Homo sapiens: one gene and its partners. The protein of the gene in region 1 purifies or fractionates together with the protein of each later gene. This does not show direct contact. Each region holds a gene or a part of one and is shown in the gene's direction. Other genes may lie near its edges.

What was found.
Region 2: the proteins of HIP1R (region 1) and MTMR6 fractionate together in Homo sapiens (co-fractionation; one large-scale study listed by BioGRID). This does not show direct contact.
Region 3: the proteins of HIP1R (region 1) and MCCC1 fractionate together in Homo sapiens (co-fractionation; one large-scale study listed by BioGRID). This does not show direct contact.

What each region holds. Positions count from the first base shown.
Region 1 is NC_000012.12:122,837,468-122,842,921, forward strand, and holds part of HIP1R (huntingtin-interacting protein 1-related protein), read left to right. Parts: intron 1-5,454. UniProt on the Homo sapiens protein: Component of clathrin-coated pits and vesicles, that may link the endocytic machinery to the actin cytoskeleton. Binds 3-phosphoinositides (via ENTH domain).
Region 2 is NC_000013.11:25,252,365-25,257,818, reverse strand, and holds part of MTMR6 (phosphatidylinositol-3,5-bisphosphate 3-phosphatase MTMR6), read left to right. Parts: coding exon 1-83; intron 84-497; coding exon 498-623; intron 624-2,746; coding exon of another isoform or gene 2,747-2,797; exon of another isoform or gene 2,798-3,370; intron 3,371-3,384; coding exon 3,385-3,434; intron 3,435-3,854; coding exon 3,855-4,055; intron 4,056-5,454. UniProt on the Homo sapiens protein: Lipid phosphatase that specifically dephosphorylates the D-3 position of phosphatidylinositol 3-phosphate and phosphatidylinositol 3,5-bisphosphate, generating phosphatidylinositol and phosphatidylinositol 5-phosphate.
Region 3 is NC_000003.12:183,016,484-183,020,826, reverse strand, and holds part of MCCC1 (methylcrotonoyl-CoA carboxylase subunit alpha, mitochondrial isoform 1 precursor), read left to right. Parts: intron 1-589; coding exon 590-697; intron 698-3,489; coding exon 3,490-3,561; intron 3,562-4,343.

The sequences.
Region 1 (5,454 bases):
GCCACCACACCTGGCTAATTTTTGTGTTTGCAGTAGAGAAGGTGTTTCACCATGTTGGACAGGCTGGTCTCGAACTCCTGACCTCAGGCGATCCACCCGCCTCACCTCGGCCTCCCGAGATGTTGGGATTACAGGCACCTCTCCGAAGGTGGATTGTTTTGTTTTGTTTTGCTCTGGTTTTTTCTCAGAGGCTAAGAGGGCCACTAACAATGAATAACTTTGTAATGGGTGAATGTCACAGGTCTTACCTATTCTAGGGCCCCATTTTCTGGAAAGTTGGAGTTTGAGTTCATTGTCTGGGTTTGCTCGTCTTCACAGTGACTTATTGAGGAATGTAAGAATGAGGTTTTGTACGTGGTTAATATTTAATTAGATCGTTCCCAGAAATAATCAGGTGAGCCGCCAGCCAGGTCCCGTGGTGGAAAAGGACCTGGAGAGCTGAGGTTGTTACTTCCATGTCTCCTTCGGGACAGAAAATAGCACATGCAGTCCAGGGACCTGGCTTCCTTTGTAATACGCTGCTTGTCTTGCATTGACCACAGCACTGTGTGCTGTGGCAGGAGCACTAGGCTGGCTTAGAATTTAAATATTCACTAGCCTGCCAGCCTCGCTTTCCTCCCCTGGGCTCCTGGGTCAGGAGGAAGATAATTGCTTTCCTGTGAGCTTTTTTGACAGGACACACCCTGTTTGCAAATATCTGTGGGGTTAGCGCTCAGGAGTGTGAAGAGAGGCGATCATGTGCCTGCTGGGAGCTGGTGCCTGTGATTGTTGCATGGTGTGTGTGTATAATCCCAGGGGAATGTCCAGAAAACCAGTGTATGCTTTTCTTCCCTATGACTTTAGTCCCTTTGGTTAAAAAAAAAAAAAATCCTTTTCAAAATGGAGGTGACAAACTTTTATTGTCTTGTTGCTGTTTTCTGAATACAGAATACTACAAAATACAGCATGCCTGTATTTGGAACCTGAACACTGCCTGTACCATTTAAAAAGAGGGTGTGGTATCATAAAGGCACTAGTAGGTAGATAGACCTAGGCTCTAGCCTGTGTCCCTGGCAAGTTGCTTAACTTGTAAATCTATGTCCTTGTCTGAAAAAAAAACCATACAGATCGTTCCAGCTATCGTATAGGGCTGTTGTAAGGTGTAAGAGAGAGACCGTGTGGCAGCTAGAACCTGTGACTACGTTAATGACTTAGTAAGGCGTTGCAGGTGGAATTAGAGTTTTTCATCAGCTGAGATGGTCCTTGAGATGGGGCGATTCTCCTGGGCTACCAGGTGGGCTCAGTGTAATCACAAAGGTCTTTAAATGTGGACAAGGGAGGCAGGAGAGGAGGTCGGACTGAGTCCATGTGAGAAAGACTCACTGCCTGCTGCTGGGGAGGAGCCACTAGCCAAGGAGTATGGGCATCCTCCACAGCCTGGAAAAGGCGAGGAAATGGATTCTTCCCTAGAGCCTCCAGGAGGAAACACAGCCTTTCTGACACTTTGCTTTTAGTCCTGTGAGACCTGTTTTAGACTTCCGACCTCCAGAACTGCGAGTTTGTGTGATTTGTTATGGCAGCCATAAGGAACTAATACATCCAGTATGTAAACATGAAAGAGCACCTAGGGCATAGAAGGGCCTCAGCAGATACTTGGCCCAACCGTCTTTCTCCCTTCCCTTCCTCGGCTGAAAAGTTTAACATCTAGAGAAGAAAGCATCTTTGAAGCATATCATGAAGAAGGACTCAGTTAGGAGTACTGGAAATGCTAATGGTGAGTCCTGCCTTTTCCTGATCTGTGAACCTTTCTGCTTCACTGGGCCTCAGTTTCCACTGCAGGCCCACAGGATGGAGATCAAGCCCAGAAGATTCCTCTCAGGTTAGGATGAGAGAAACCCTTTACTACACTGCAAGGCCTCTGGCCACTGCTGAGTGAGCCAAGTCTGGCGGGTGAGCATTAACTGTAGACATGAAACTACCCAGGTGTAAGGGGTTCCTGTGGGGCAGGGACTGTCTAGGGCAGCAATATGTGGAAACAGTTCATAGGTCCAATTTTCCAGGTTGGTGACATACATGCTTAGCATCCCCCGTGAAACCAAAATCCTGTCAAGATTAACATTTATTGACAACTGAGGGCTTCTCAGCCCCGGCACACAGTAGAGCAGTGTTGTCCAGGAGGAACCAGAGGCAAGCCACGTGTGTACTTTTAGATTGTCTAGTAACTACTAGAAAAGTCAACAGAAACAGGTGCGATTAACTGTAATAGCATATTTTATTTAACCCAGTATATCCAAAAGCTAGCCCTTTCAACATGTAATTGCCACAAAAATTATGAATAGGAGAATTTACATTCTTTTTCTCCTACTAAATCTTTGAAATAGGTATGCACTGGACACTCACAGCTGATCTCAGTCTGGACTCACCACCTTTCCAATACTCACAGCCCGCACCGGCCAGCGGCTACCGTGCCGGACAATGCAAGTGTTAGAATCACCTGGTGGCTTTTAGAAAAGGGCAACATTTACGTGTATAGGAGTGATTTGCCCGCAGCATGGCATGGGCGTTGAGCTCGTTGTTCCTGGGCATGCGCACTGCTGTCTCGCCCCGTGACATCCTCTGCTCGGTTCCACCCCATCAGCCCACATGGTGATGCCCTCGTGGTGATGCCCGGCAGGCCGCTGACTTCCCGACCCCTGGGCTGCATATTGCCTCCCTGGCAGAGCTATTCCAGAGGCTGTTCTTGGTCCAGGTTGGGGTGGGAAGGGGCCACCCATCCTTGACCTCCCCCTCCCTGTCTCTGATGTGTTTTGATGCCCATGACACATTCCTGAGCGCCGCTTGCTGTCTTACCATTTGGCCTGTTCCTGTAGCTTTGGGGTGTGCCCCAGGAAGGTCCGAGTCATCTTTGTACCCTCTAAGAGGTGGAGAGATGCCAACTGTGGCCACGTGTGGAATGGTAGGGCAGTCAAGAGCAAGCTCCAGGTTCAGCCCCTGGCTCTGTCCCTTCACCACTCTGCCTCAGTTTCCTTATCTACAAAATGGGGGCAATAATACTACACACCTCCTGGAGTGGTTGTGAAGAAATTTACAGGTGTTCATAGTGCCTGGTGTGTAGTGAATGCCGTGTAAGTGTTGGCTGTTATGTTGTGTTCAGAAGAGCAGGCTGGGCTGAAAGAGAGAAACAAGCTCCCTGTTGAGCTCTGCCCGGTGCCCTTAGATTAGCTGTAAGCGGAGGCCTTGTGTGCTGGGGCGGTTGGGGAGAAAAGTGGATCTGCACAGAGGTTGGGGGGACTCAGGCAGGTGGGGACAGCCCTTCCCTGGAAGAGTGAGCCCAGAGGTGCCACATTATGAAGGCTCTCCAGGGTTGGGAGGATATTCTGGGGGACGACAGCCTCAGGAGGTGCAGACAAAGCCAGCAGGAGCCTTGCCTGGCAGAACTGCTCACCCTCTGAATAGGGACAGGCGCAGACGAGGCCCCTTCTCTGACCTGATCCAGAAGCCAGCCTCCCAGCCAGCGCTGCACCGGTCATTCGCGAATGAAACCCAGCTGGCCACTGGATCCCAGCAGCTTAAAGTGGAAAGCCTCTGAGTGGAGTCCAGGCCTGCTTGGCCAAGGGACAGGGATACCCAGCCGGCTAACCTGAGACGCCTTGGCTGCTCTGTTGGCAATGCCCTTACCCGCCCCCTCCCCGCCCAACTTGGTAATCTGCGATGCTAACTTGAATATCACCTCCTCTGTGCAGCCACCCGCTGCCGTCCTCCTGCCCAAGCCTCTCTGTGCTGCCCAGTCCTCATGACATTATTTGCGCTGCTTCCACATCTGCCCTGACACGCTGTGGCTGGCCCAGCAGAGCGGGAGGAAGCAGACAGACATGGGGTGGGCGCATGTGTAGACCAGGCTCGCCTGAGAAGTGGGAGTGTGTCATCTCCTTGCCGAGTTCCCTGAGCAACTGCTCAGACCTGCACCAGCCACCTACCCTGGGGTCATCAGGCAGGGCCGCGTCGTAAGTGGCTGGATGAGTGGATGCTCAGGGGCCAGTGGTCTCCCTTCTTTGATGCTGTCTTCTTGGTGAGGTCTGAAAGGCTCATGGCCATCCATTCTAGGGAATGACTGAGGCCTGGAGAAAAGTTTATTTGGGGCGAGATTGTTTTTTCTCTGGCTAAAATAAACATGATCCTCAAACTGCAGTAGGTTCATCTGCTTGGAGGTGACTCAGGCTCCTGGCTTTTGGGACAGACGGGTTTGTGGAGTGATGTCACCAGGGCCCAGGGAATGAAACTGCACGACCTGGCTGCCTGTCACTTCCAGAGCCAGCCTGGCAGAGGGGTGACGCAGGAACAGTCCTCCTACTACTGGGTGTCACCCACAAAGCCTGGGGCGGAGGTGGCAGTGGGTCAGGCGGCAACATTGTAACCAGTGTCCTGGGGAACCTGGGCTCTCATGCTCCCCTCGGGAGCTTTCCTAAACGCTGAAATGACGGAGTGGCCAGGACCAAGCAGGCCTGGGTGAGAGTGAGGGGAGATACAGGTTAAATGGAGCGGAGCAGTTGCCCCTGACTTCCTGTCTGCTGGAGCTGACCCAGCTGTCCGCCTCGCTGCTTTGCGTGTGGCCATATCCCGGCCTCCTCAGCTACAGAAACCCTGTGTTTGCTCTGTCAATGGCCTTTGAGGGGACAGACGCATTTGAATGAGATCTCTCTGTCCTTCAACCAACTCTTTGGAAATGTTAAAGCAAAATAACCTACCGCTCTGCCAGCGTCCGTCCGTGTGCCCCAGCTCTTTGAAGAACGTTCTTGTCCCTGCCAAGTGCTGCTGTTAGGTGCCACGATAATACAGCACAGGGAGGCTTACGTCTGATTCATTTCAGCGTTGATTTTAAAAATAGAAATTGTTTTATAATTACTTTTACTCTGCAGCTCTAGTGGATAAATTATTAGCTGGAGAAGGAGAGACTCAGTGCCCTGAAGTCGTCCAGTACTTGTCTTTGAAAGAGCTCTTGTCCTTCGAGTGTTCACCCTTCCATTTGCCCAGTGGGGATTTGCTGACAGCCAGATGTTGGTTTGGGCCTAGAGATACAGCAGGAAGGAAGATGTCCCTGTATTCGGGGGTTGGAGGTGGGGACAGAGTATGATCGGTGGACAGACAACTCCGGAGCCTCCTGGGCCACAGGGTGCCGCGGGGTTGGCGTGTGGGGCAGCCGCTGCCTGGAGCCTCCCAGCTCAGTTGCCTGGCTTTGCTGACAGTGCCCATTCCTGCGGTCTGTTTCCATCTGGACTCCACATCAGGCCTGGGCCAGCAGCCTCTCGGGAGCGTCCCCTGCCTCACCCTGATCTCCCCTCTTCTGAGGCAGCACTCACTGAGATGCTCGCTGGGGTGTGCCCCATGAGTCTCAGTCCAGGGACCAGTGCAGCTCTGGGCTGCTCACGAGTCAGCGGGCTCTGTCTGGCCTGATTGTTCCTGGAAGCAGGGCAGGTG
Region 2 (5,454 bases), on another chromosome or scaffold:
ATGATTTCTACTCCGGTTTGGAGAGCTCGGGATGGCTTCGCCATATCAAAGCTGTTATGGATGCTGCAATCTTCTTGGCCAAAGTAATACTTTATCTTTCATATTTGGTCTTGGGGTCTATAATGATTGGGAAGGAGTAGATGTATTCTGTTGGGGGCTGGTATCTATTCATCAGATAACTTTTATTATTTTTTACCTCTTTAATGAGCTTCACTTTATTTTCAGCCTTAAAAATATCATGTAGCACTTAATGTAGAAACTTAAAAAGATGCTCCTAAATACTTTGAAGTGGCATTTTTTCTTTGTTTTTTTTTTGTTTGTTTGCTTGTGTTTTTGTTGTTACCATATTTTGTTGTGTATTTTGGAAATTATGCTGTGACATTATCATTGCAGGCATAGCACTTCCTTGTAACACAATACCTGCTAGTATGATTTTCAAGTAGAATTTATTGGTTTACCTTAAAGTACGCTAGAATGTATGTGATCTTTCTTTTCAGGCAATAACAGTTGAAAATGCAAGTGTGTTGGTGCATTGTTCCGATGGTTGGGATAGGACTTCCCAGGTTTGTTCCCTGGGTTCTCTTTTATTGGATTCCTACTACAGGACAATCAAAGGATTCATGGTAAGGATTTATTTGGTTAGACCAATGGTTCTTAAGTAGGAGTAATTTTATGTTCCTCCAGAGGACATTTGGCAATGTTGGAGACAGTTTTGCACTAAAGGAAATGATGAGACTGGCATCCGTGGGAGTGGCCAGGGATATTGCTAACTAAACATTTTATAATGCACAAAATTTTTGCTGGGGGGTCAGCCTCACAGCAAAGACTGATCTGGCCTGTAATGTCAGTACTGTCGAGGTTGAAAAACCTTGAATTAGACTTATTTCCATTTGTGCTAACACTGACAATAAGCTTTAGATTTAAATAATTTTTTTTCCTAAAATGTTGCAATGGAAATATTCAGTATTTTCTCCCTCATTTTTATCTAACAAATGTAAATAATGTAATAAAACAATGCACAAATAAGAGTACTTAAAATTAAATTCTGAAGGAAACCTTCTATTTAAAACACCTGCATTAGTAAGTGTAATAACATATTAGGCATGTTTTATATCTGAAGATAAAATTTCTAGTTGAATAGATTTTCTCCTTTGTGAAGATAAAGACCTAGTTCCTTTTTTTTGTTTCTTTGCTTTTAAAGGTATGATCAGATTTTTATTTGCTTGCTTTTAAACGTGTGAGCAGATTAACTTATGTTTTCAAAATTTACATCTTAACTCATGGTAAATTAAATGAAGAGATGTTAGAAAATTTTCATTAGTCTTGAATTATTAAATACAGTGCCATCTTAAAGCAAAGGAAGATTTAAAATCACCAGTCCCTTTTCAGCACCGCTATTTTTTGCTGCTAACATACCGACTCTGGGACAGGCCAAGCGGGAGTGCTGCTAATAAGAAAATAATGCTCAGCTTACCTTGAGAGTGTACGATAAGGAATATTTTCTTTGCCATGTTTGGCTTTAATTATTTGTTAGACATCCAAATGAAATCATGTAATAAATGGGGATGATGTGAGAGCTTCCCAGGCAATAGGAACAGTGTAAATCAAAGCATAACCTCTTTGGGTGACTGCAGGTAATGTGTGATGGATGGAGTTCAGAGTGAGTATTAGAATAGGGGGCTTGGAGGCAGAGGAATAGAGTGGGGTCAGGGCCTGAGAAAGAGAAGGCTGGAATGGGGCTTTCCCCTCTTTGGATAATGGGAGCTATTAAAGAGTTTTAAACAAGCAAACAGTAACTTGATTAGATGTGCTTTTTAAAAAGGTGGCTTGGTATCTTGAAGGCCAAAGGGAGTGGGAATGGAGGCTAGGAGGCGAGTGTAGACACTATTATGATAACTTATGAGACAAAAGTTTTTAATTTTACCAAACTAAAATAGTAACACACAAGTGAAGGGGGAGGTGATGGGTTCCAGGGATGTTTAGAGAGTAGAGTCAGTGGCTGGGCGCAGTGGCTCACGCCTGTAATCCCAGCACTTTGGGAGGCCAAGGCGGGTGGATCATGAGGTCAGGAATTCGAGACCAGCCTGGCCAATATGGTGAAACCCTGTCTCTGCTAAAAATACAAAAATTAGCCGGGCATGGTGATGTGTACCTATAATCCCAGCTACTCAGGAGGCTGAGGCAGAAGAATTACTTGAACCCAGGAGGCGGAGGTTGCAGTGAGCCAAGATTGCGCCACTGCACTCCAGCCTGGGCAACAGAGTGAGACCCTGTCTCAAAAAAAAAAGAAAGTAGAGTCAGGAAGAATTGATCATGGATTGGATGTGGGATAGAAGAGAGGAGTCTTCCTCTGGGATGATTTCCAAGTTTCTGAATTAGGTGCCAGGATGGATGGTGCTGCTCTCTGGCTCTTCACTGAGATAAGCCAAAGAATACATTTAGTGAGAAAGATATTGAGTTATGCTTTAAACATGGTTTTGTAGAAGAATGGCAGAGAGACCAGAATAAAATCTGTGGCTCCAGCCACAAGGTCACACAAAGTGGTGAAGCTGGGATTGGAGCCTGTGCCTGAGCTCCAGCGACTACATCCTCAGCCACATCAGTGTATAGCCTTCTGCGGAAAGCAGAGGCTTGAGACAAAATCAGAGAAGCTAAAACCAGCAGTTTTGACACTATGAAAATAATGTGCTTGGTGACTGTATAGTTAAGTGATAAAGTGTACTAAATACTACAAATATGTGTTTAGATTAGACTGAAAAAGTTAGAAATCTGTTTTTACAGTGGAGTGGGTAAGTAGAGAAGCTGTGGCAAGGAAAACATAAAGTCAGTCCATTCAAGAGGATAGATGTTAACACTTGGATCTGAACATGAACTCAAGTAAGATGATTTGATTAAAATAATTGGTCTTTTTATCATTAGTTTTTTTTTCTTAAAAAAAGTAGTATATAAATAATATAAAAAATGTACAAGTAAGCCAAAAGTTTTAAAATATCCACCTCAGTCTACCACCTAGAGTTATCCTTTGTTAGCAGTTTTGGTTTACATTTTTCTAGCCTTTTTCCTATGATATATCATCTTCATACATACAAAAACTTAAATGTAATACTGCTTTATAACATGTACTTTTCACTTAAAATGTAATAAATTCAACGGAAATAATTTAAGTCACGAAACTACTCTATTTCTTTTTATGCATTTTTATTCTTCTTTAACCCCACCTCGAATCAAGGTTTTGGCATTCTTTTGCCTGTGGTTTTTTGTGCTGTTTTGTTTATAAGTTAAAAGTGTACAGTAAATACTGTTTTTAAACTAATAAGATTTAATCCAGCCTAAACAAAATAATTGAAAGTAGTCAGAAAGTGAATTTTACTTTTTCTCATTAAGGTTTTAATAGAAAAGGATTGGATCTCTTTTGGACATAAATTTTCAGAGAGGTGAGTCACAGTTACACAGTCATATATTTTATAAAATTAGTAAACCAAGTTTAGAATGCCAAAATGTTTCTGTTCCTTATGAACTCACATGCGTGATGGGAGGTAAGAGTGTCATGGTTTTTACTGTATTTTACGTAAAGACATTTAATTTTTTTCTGTAATTTCTTTCAATTCTAGTACGCTTGTTAATTTTCATGACTATTTATTACCTTCCTTTTGGGCTGCATTTTATTTAGAGATGGTAACAGATCCTTTAAAGCTGTGGTTTAAAAACTCATAAATGGTTTCAATAAAAATTCTAGTTTTGCATGCTAATGTAACAGTGCTTTAGGAATATTTTTGTATGTTTAAGATTAACAATACCTGAACAATGGACCTTTCAGAGGTGTTTTTAAAAGCTTATACTTTCTGTGGGGTTAGGTGTGGCCAGTTGGATGGTGACCCAAAGGAAGTCTCACCAGTGTTTACTCAGTTCTTGGAATGTGTGTGGCATTTGACCGAACAGTTTCCACAAGCCTTTGAATTCAGTGAAGCATTTCTTCTTCAGATCCATGAGCATATTCATTCATGCCAGTTTGGAAACTTCCTTGGAAATTGTCAGAAGGAAAGAGAAGAGCTCAAGTAAGATGATTCAATTAAAAGAGTCTCCTTTTCCCCCTACTTAGCCGAGGTCTAACAAAAATCATGTTTGAAACTTAATAAAATATCTTGACAATTTGAAAGTTTATTGTAAAGATTTTATTTTTTGTATTTCTAAAGCTGAGTACCCTTCTAATATTCCCCCACCTTTCAGCTAATAGTAAAAGCACATTATAAAATGTGTTTTGAAGTGTAGCATACATACAGAAAAGTACATAGAGCGTTAAGTGTGAAGCTCAGTAAATCTTACCAAACTCACACACCTATGTAACCAGCACCCAGAATATGAAATGTTGTCAACACCCTGGAAAGTCTCCTCATGCTTCTTTTCGGTCTGCATTTATATATTTTAGAACAGAGAAATCCTTATGCTGTTTAATTTCCCAGAATGTATCAGTCGCTAGTTTTAAAGTGTAAAATATTTTAAACTGTTGGTTTGTTTTAAGATAGGATGGAGCCTTATAGCTCTCCCCACATTTCTAAACAGACAGTTCTTTGGGGAAAATAAATCTAGCTATGTTGGCTGCAGCGTGTCCGTCCTTGAGTAGGGTCTCAGAAAAGCCCTGAGACACTACTTGACCCTAGTTCATGTTATTTCCTGACCAGTCTTCGGGGATAGGGGTTTTTGCCTAAATTTTGCTGTAAGGAAGATCTCTGGAGTAGGTCTTAGAGGTCCTATGTATATTGTTTTAGGTTGGGCTTCTGAGTTTGGATTTCTTTATTGCCTCTTACAGTAGGCAATAAAGAGCACTTAACAGACTTTTGAACATCCAAGGGACATATTAAGGAAGCTAAATCTGGTAGTATTTGAAGATAGCCACATGCTCACACTCCCAACAGAGTAAACAGCAGAACTGAGAGCATGTGGAAAATTCTAAAAATGCGTAAAGGGAATAAAAAGTGAATAGAGAATGGTGGAGATGAACAATCAAAGAACATTGAGGCTTTAGCTCTATGTTACAGTGATTCAAAATAGTTTATTATAATTTGGAGCACAGAGGTAACTCTTTTCCTGGAGTACAGAGCTATTTTAGGAAAAACTATTCTTAATTAGTGCCAAACATTCTCAAAAATGGAAAGATGGAAGTAAAAGTAGATATTTCCTAGTAGTTTTTCTCCAAGACACACCTATGGGTCATCTTAGGAGTTATGGAAAAATCAGGAGATTTTCCACTTTCCCCCTGGATACCTACATTATGTTTACTTGGTAAATGTCCAGTCTAAAACCATTCTTACCTTTGCCCAGCTACTCTTAGATTTGCAAAATAATTGGCTTTTAAAATTCTTGCATAACATCCTGATTTTGCCTGTTCCCTTTTTGTACCCACTCACACTTACGTGTGCTCCTGCCCTATGATACTCGCCACTACGGCCCAGACGT
Region 3 (4,343 bases), on another chromosome or scaffold:
TGGCCTCCTAAAGTGCTGGGATTACAGGCGTGAGCCACGGCGCCCAGCCTAAATCTTTTAATATACTGTGAGGCATGTATACCGTTACGCCTTTACAATGGGAAACCAAGGCTGAGAGAGGTTTAATAATTTGCTCAAGGTCATAAAGCTAGATTAGAACCCTGGTATTAATGGTGACTAATTTATTTTTTTTTTTGAGTCAGAGTCTCACTCTGTCACCCAGGCTGGAGTGCAGTGGCGCAGTCTTAGCTCACTGCAGCCTCTACCTCCCAGGCTCAAGTGAGCCTCCTGCCTCAGTTCCCAAGTAGCTGGGACTATAGGCGCGTACCACTACACTGGGCTGATTTTTGTATTTTTTGTAGAGATGAGGTTTCGCTATATTGCCCAGGCTGGTCTTGAACTCCTGGGCTCAAGCCATCTGCCTACCTCAGCCTCCCAAAGTGCTGGGTTTACAATCGTGAGCCACTGGGCCTGGCCATGATGACTAATATTTAACAAATTGCTGGGAAACAATTATTACCTCAGGTATATTAGTAAAAATATAGTGATAGGATGTTGATTCGGTTTTCAGTTTGTTTTCTGTTTCTAGGAAGGAAGTATTGAGATTGACATTCCAGTCCCCAAATACTTATCTTCTGTGAGCTCACAAGAAACTCAGGGCGGCCCCTTAGCTCCTATGACTGGAACCATTGAAAAGGTAATCACATGACATCTGTAGAATGATGTTCAGTAAGTTTTAATACGTGGCTTTGTTAAACTTGTCATTTATGTCCTTTTCCCTTTCTAAACCTTGCTCATTGGAAAGCATCCACTTCACAAAAACAAGAGGATCTATTACAGATTCAAATTGTTTATTACAGTCCTCACTGAAAATACCCATTTACCTAATTTATGAAAAAGACTGCTGTTTTTGAAGGCAGGCATTTGCATCAAAGTACAAATAATCTAAATTGTCTTTTTATGATTAAAACTGAGCATTCATTAAGCATTATTCAAAAAAGCTGGTTTTGAATGTTAAATTTAATAGCAGCAAATTTTTCATGAAATAATGACATTTTCTTTTAGTGTACGTAGTTGCATCTGCGTTAATGTAAAAGGCTGGTATTGGTGAAGAACAGTACGGTTTGGTGTTGAATGCAGTATATAATTCACAGTTGCAGTCCATACTGTCTGAGTCAGTTCAGGCTGCTAGAACAGAATACCATAGACTGGGTGGCTTTTAAACAATAGAAATTTATTTCTCACGATTCTAGAGGCTGGGAAATCCATCAAATCACCAGCAGATTAAGTGTCTGGTGAGAGTCTACTTACCGATTTCATAAACAGCCATTTTTTCTCTGTGTCCTCACGTGGTGGAAGGGACAAGGGACCTCTCTTCAGGCCTCTTTCATAAGGGCACTAATCTCTTTCATGAGGCCAGATCCCTCATGACCTAATCACCTGCTAAAGGCCCCACCTCCAAATACCATCATCCTGGAGGTCAGGATTTTAACAAATGAATTCTGGAGGGATATAGACATTTAGACCCTAGCACATACTGATATAACATCAAATGGTGATAGATCAGTATCCGTAGTCTCCTTTTATATACTTGAATACAGTAGAGTCTCCTCAAATACACTTAAATCATAAAAACTCAACTGTATATGCTTGGAACAAAAAAAGAAGAAGAAGAAAATAACTACTTAAATAGTGTGGGTGATTTCAGCCACTATTCTCGTTTGGAAATATTTACCCCAAGTGGGTATGAGCTAGGAGACCTGGATCTGCCTTTAGCTCATTTGATTTCAGTTCCCACAGGCCTCTCATAGTGCAGGCATCTCTGCACAACTCTGTTAGTCTCCCACTTAGTAGCCATGTTAACCAAAACGAAAGTGAGACCATATAGGATCTATGAGTCCATTTATATGTATACAAAAGAAAATAGAAATCTCTTTCTGGGGTTGCTAATAAGTTTGATTCTGTTGCATGAAGATTGTCTTCACATTTACTACACAGGGCTCTGAAGACTTCAAACACACTTACTATACTTAGCCCTAGACAACCCCAAAACAAGAAAACCAGTCAAGACCCTCATCCCTCTTCCCTCTCTGGGGAAGACATTTAAGTATATTAGTCCTTCCCTACTGGCAATGTGTCTTGTTTCTACATTCTTGAAAAAAATGAAAGGATTTCAAAATACATGGAGTATATTCATGTGATTCAAGTAAAACTAAGTGGTTTTGTGGGTGGGGACAGGGGACTAAGCAGTGCTACCCATGGACGACAGTGCCAGCAATGCCAGATTGACCTGTAGGGCTCTCATTTGACTAGTGCATTTGGGCTGTAGGCCTCTGATTTGACCAGTGCATTTGACCTGTAGGCCTCTGATTTGACCAGTACATTTGGGCTGTAGGCCTCTGATTTGACCAGTGCATTTGACCTGTAGGCCTCTGATTTGACCAGTGCATTTGGGCTGTAGGCCTCTGATTTGACCAGTGCATTTGACCTGTAGGCCTCTGATTTGACCAGTACATTTGGGCTGTAGGCCTCTGATTTGACCAGTACATTTGACCTGTAGGCCTCTGATTTGACCAGTGCATTTGGGCTGTAGGCCTCTGATTTGACCAGTGCATTTGACCTGTAGGCCTCTGATTTGACCAGTGCATTTGGGCTGTAGGCCTCTGATTTGACCAGTGCATTTGGGCTGTAGGCCTCTGATTTGACCAGTGCATTTGACCTGTAGGCCTCTTATTTGACGAGTACATTTGGGCTGTAGGCCTCTGATTTGACCAGTGCATTTGGGCTGTAGGCCTCTGATTTGACCAGTGCATTTGACCTGTAGGCCTCTGATTTGACCAGTGCATTTGGGCTGTAGGCCTCTGATTTGACCAGTGCATTTGACCTGTAGGCCTCTGATTTGACCAGTACATTTGGGCTGTAGGCCTCTGATTTGACCAGTACATTTGACCTGTAGGCCTCTGATTTGACCAGTGCATTTGGGCTGTAGGCCTCTGATTTGACCAGTACATTTGGGCTGTAGGCCTCTGATTTGACCAGTACATTTGGGCTGTAGGCCTCTGATTTGACCAGTACATTTGGGCTGTAGGTCTCAGATTTGACCTGTACATTTGGGCTGTAAGCCTCTGATTTGACCAGTGCATTTGACCTGTAGGCCTCTGATTTGACCAGTGCATTTGGGCTGTAGGTCTCAGATTTGACCTGTATATTTGGGCTGTAGGCCTCTGATTTGACCAGTGCATTTGGCAGATGGCACAACCACATGGGCTCTACTTCTGCTCTGTAAGTTTATATACCAAATCTGTGGACCACAAAGGACCTCTGTGTTGTTTTTTTTCTTTTTATTTATGTTTTATTGTTTATATTCATGGTTTGCAACATGATGTTATGAGTATATATAGACAGTAAAATGGTTACTATAATGAAGCAGATGAACATATCTAGGACCTCTGTGTTTTCAAATATTAACCTGTCACACTGAATCTCAAGGTGTTTGTCAAAGCTGGAGACAAAGTGAAAGCGGGAGATTCCCTCATGGTTATGATCGCCATGAAGATGGAGGTAAGGAAATCATGAGTTCATTTGCTATGAGGACTTTGGGAGCAATCATACCTAATGGTTCTTTTGCCTTATTTTGTAAGTTAATACCACCTTAAATATGAAAAGCCATGATTGACGAAGCATTAATTGTAGGAAACAAAACCAAACTATCCTTCTTGTAGAAAAGAGTTTTACTTTAACTTTGTGAAATTGCACCTGTCATTTCTGATTCTGAAATTAATGAAATTATCAATAGCTTGGAATCAGGCGATAATCCAACTGAATGTTAACTGTTGGTATTTTCTAAGATAATCCAACTGAATGTTAACTGTTGGTGTTTCTGGAATGTTAACTGTTGGTATTTTCTAATGTTAACTGTTGGTATTATCTTGGTTCTAAGGCCGAACCAAGGATGCCAGGCATCAGTTTCAAAGTGAAAACCGCAATCAAATTAAATTAGCTGTTTAGGTTTTTAGATGGTTCAAATGGTAGGTCAGTGATTCTTAGCCCTGGCTGAATATTGCAGACAGTCCTCAACTTACAATGGTTCAATTAAGGATTTTTCAGCTTGACAATGGTGCAAAACCATACACGTTGAATATGCTCCTCAGCTTACATTGGATTTATCTGGACCTGACCCCATCGTAAGTCAAGGAGCATGTGTACAGTCACCTGGGGAGATTTGAAAAAATTCTTCCCCAGACCCATTGAATTGCAATCTCCAGGAGTAGAGCCCAAGGATCAATACTTTTGAAAGGCTGGGCGCAGTGGCTCATGCCTGTAATCCCAGCACTTTGGGAGGC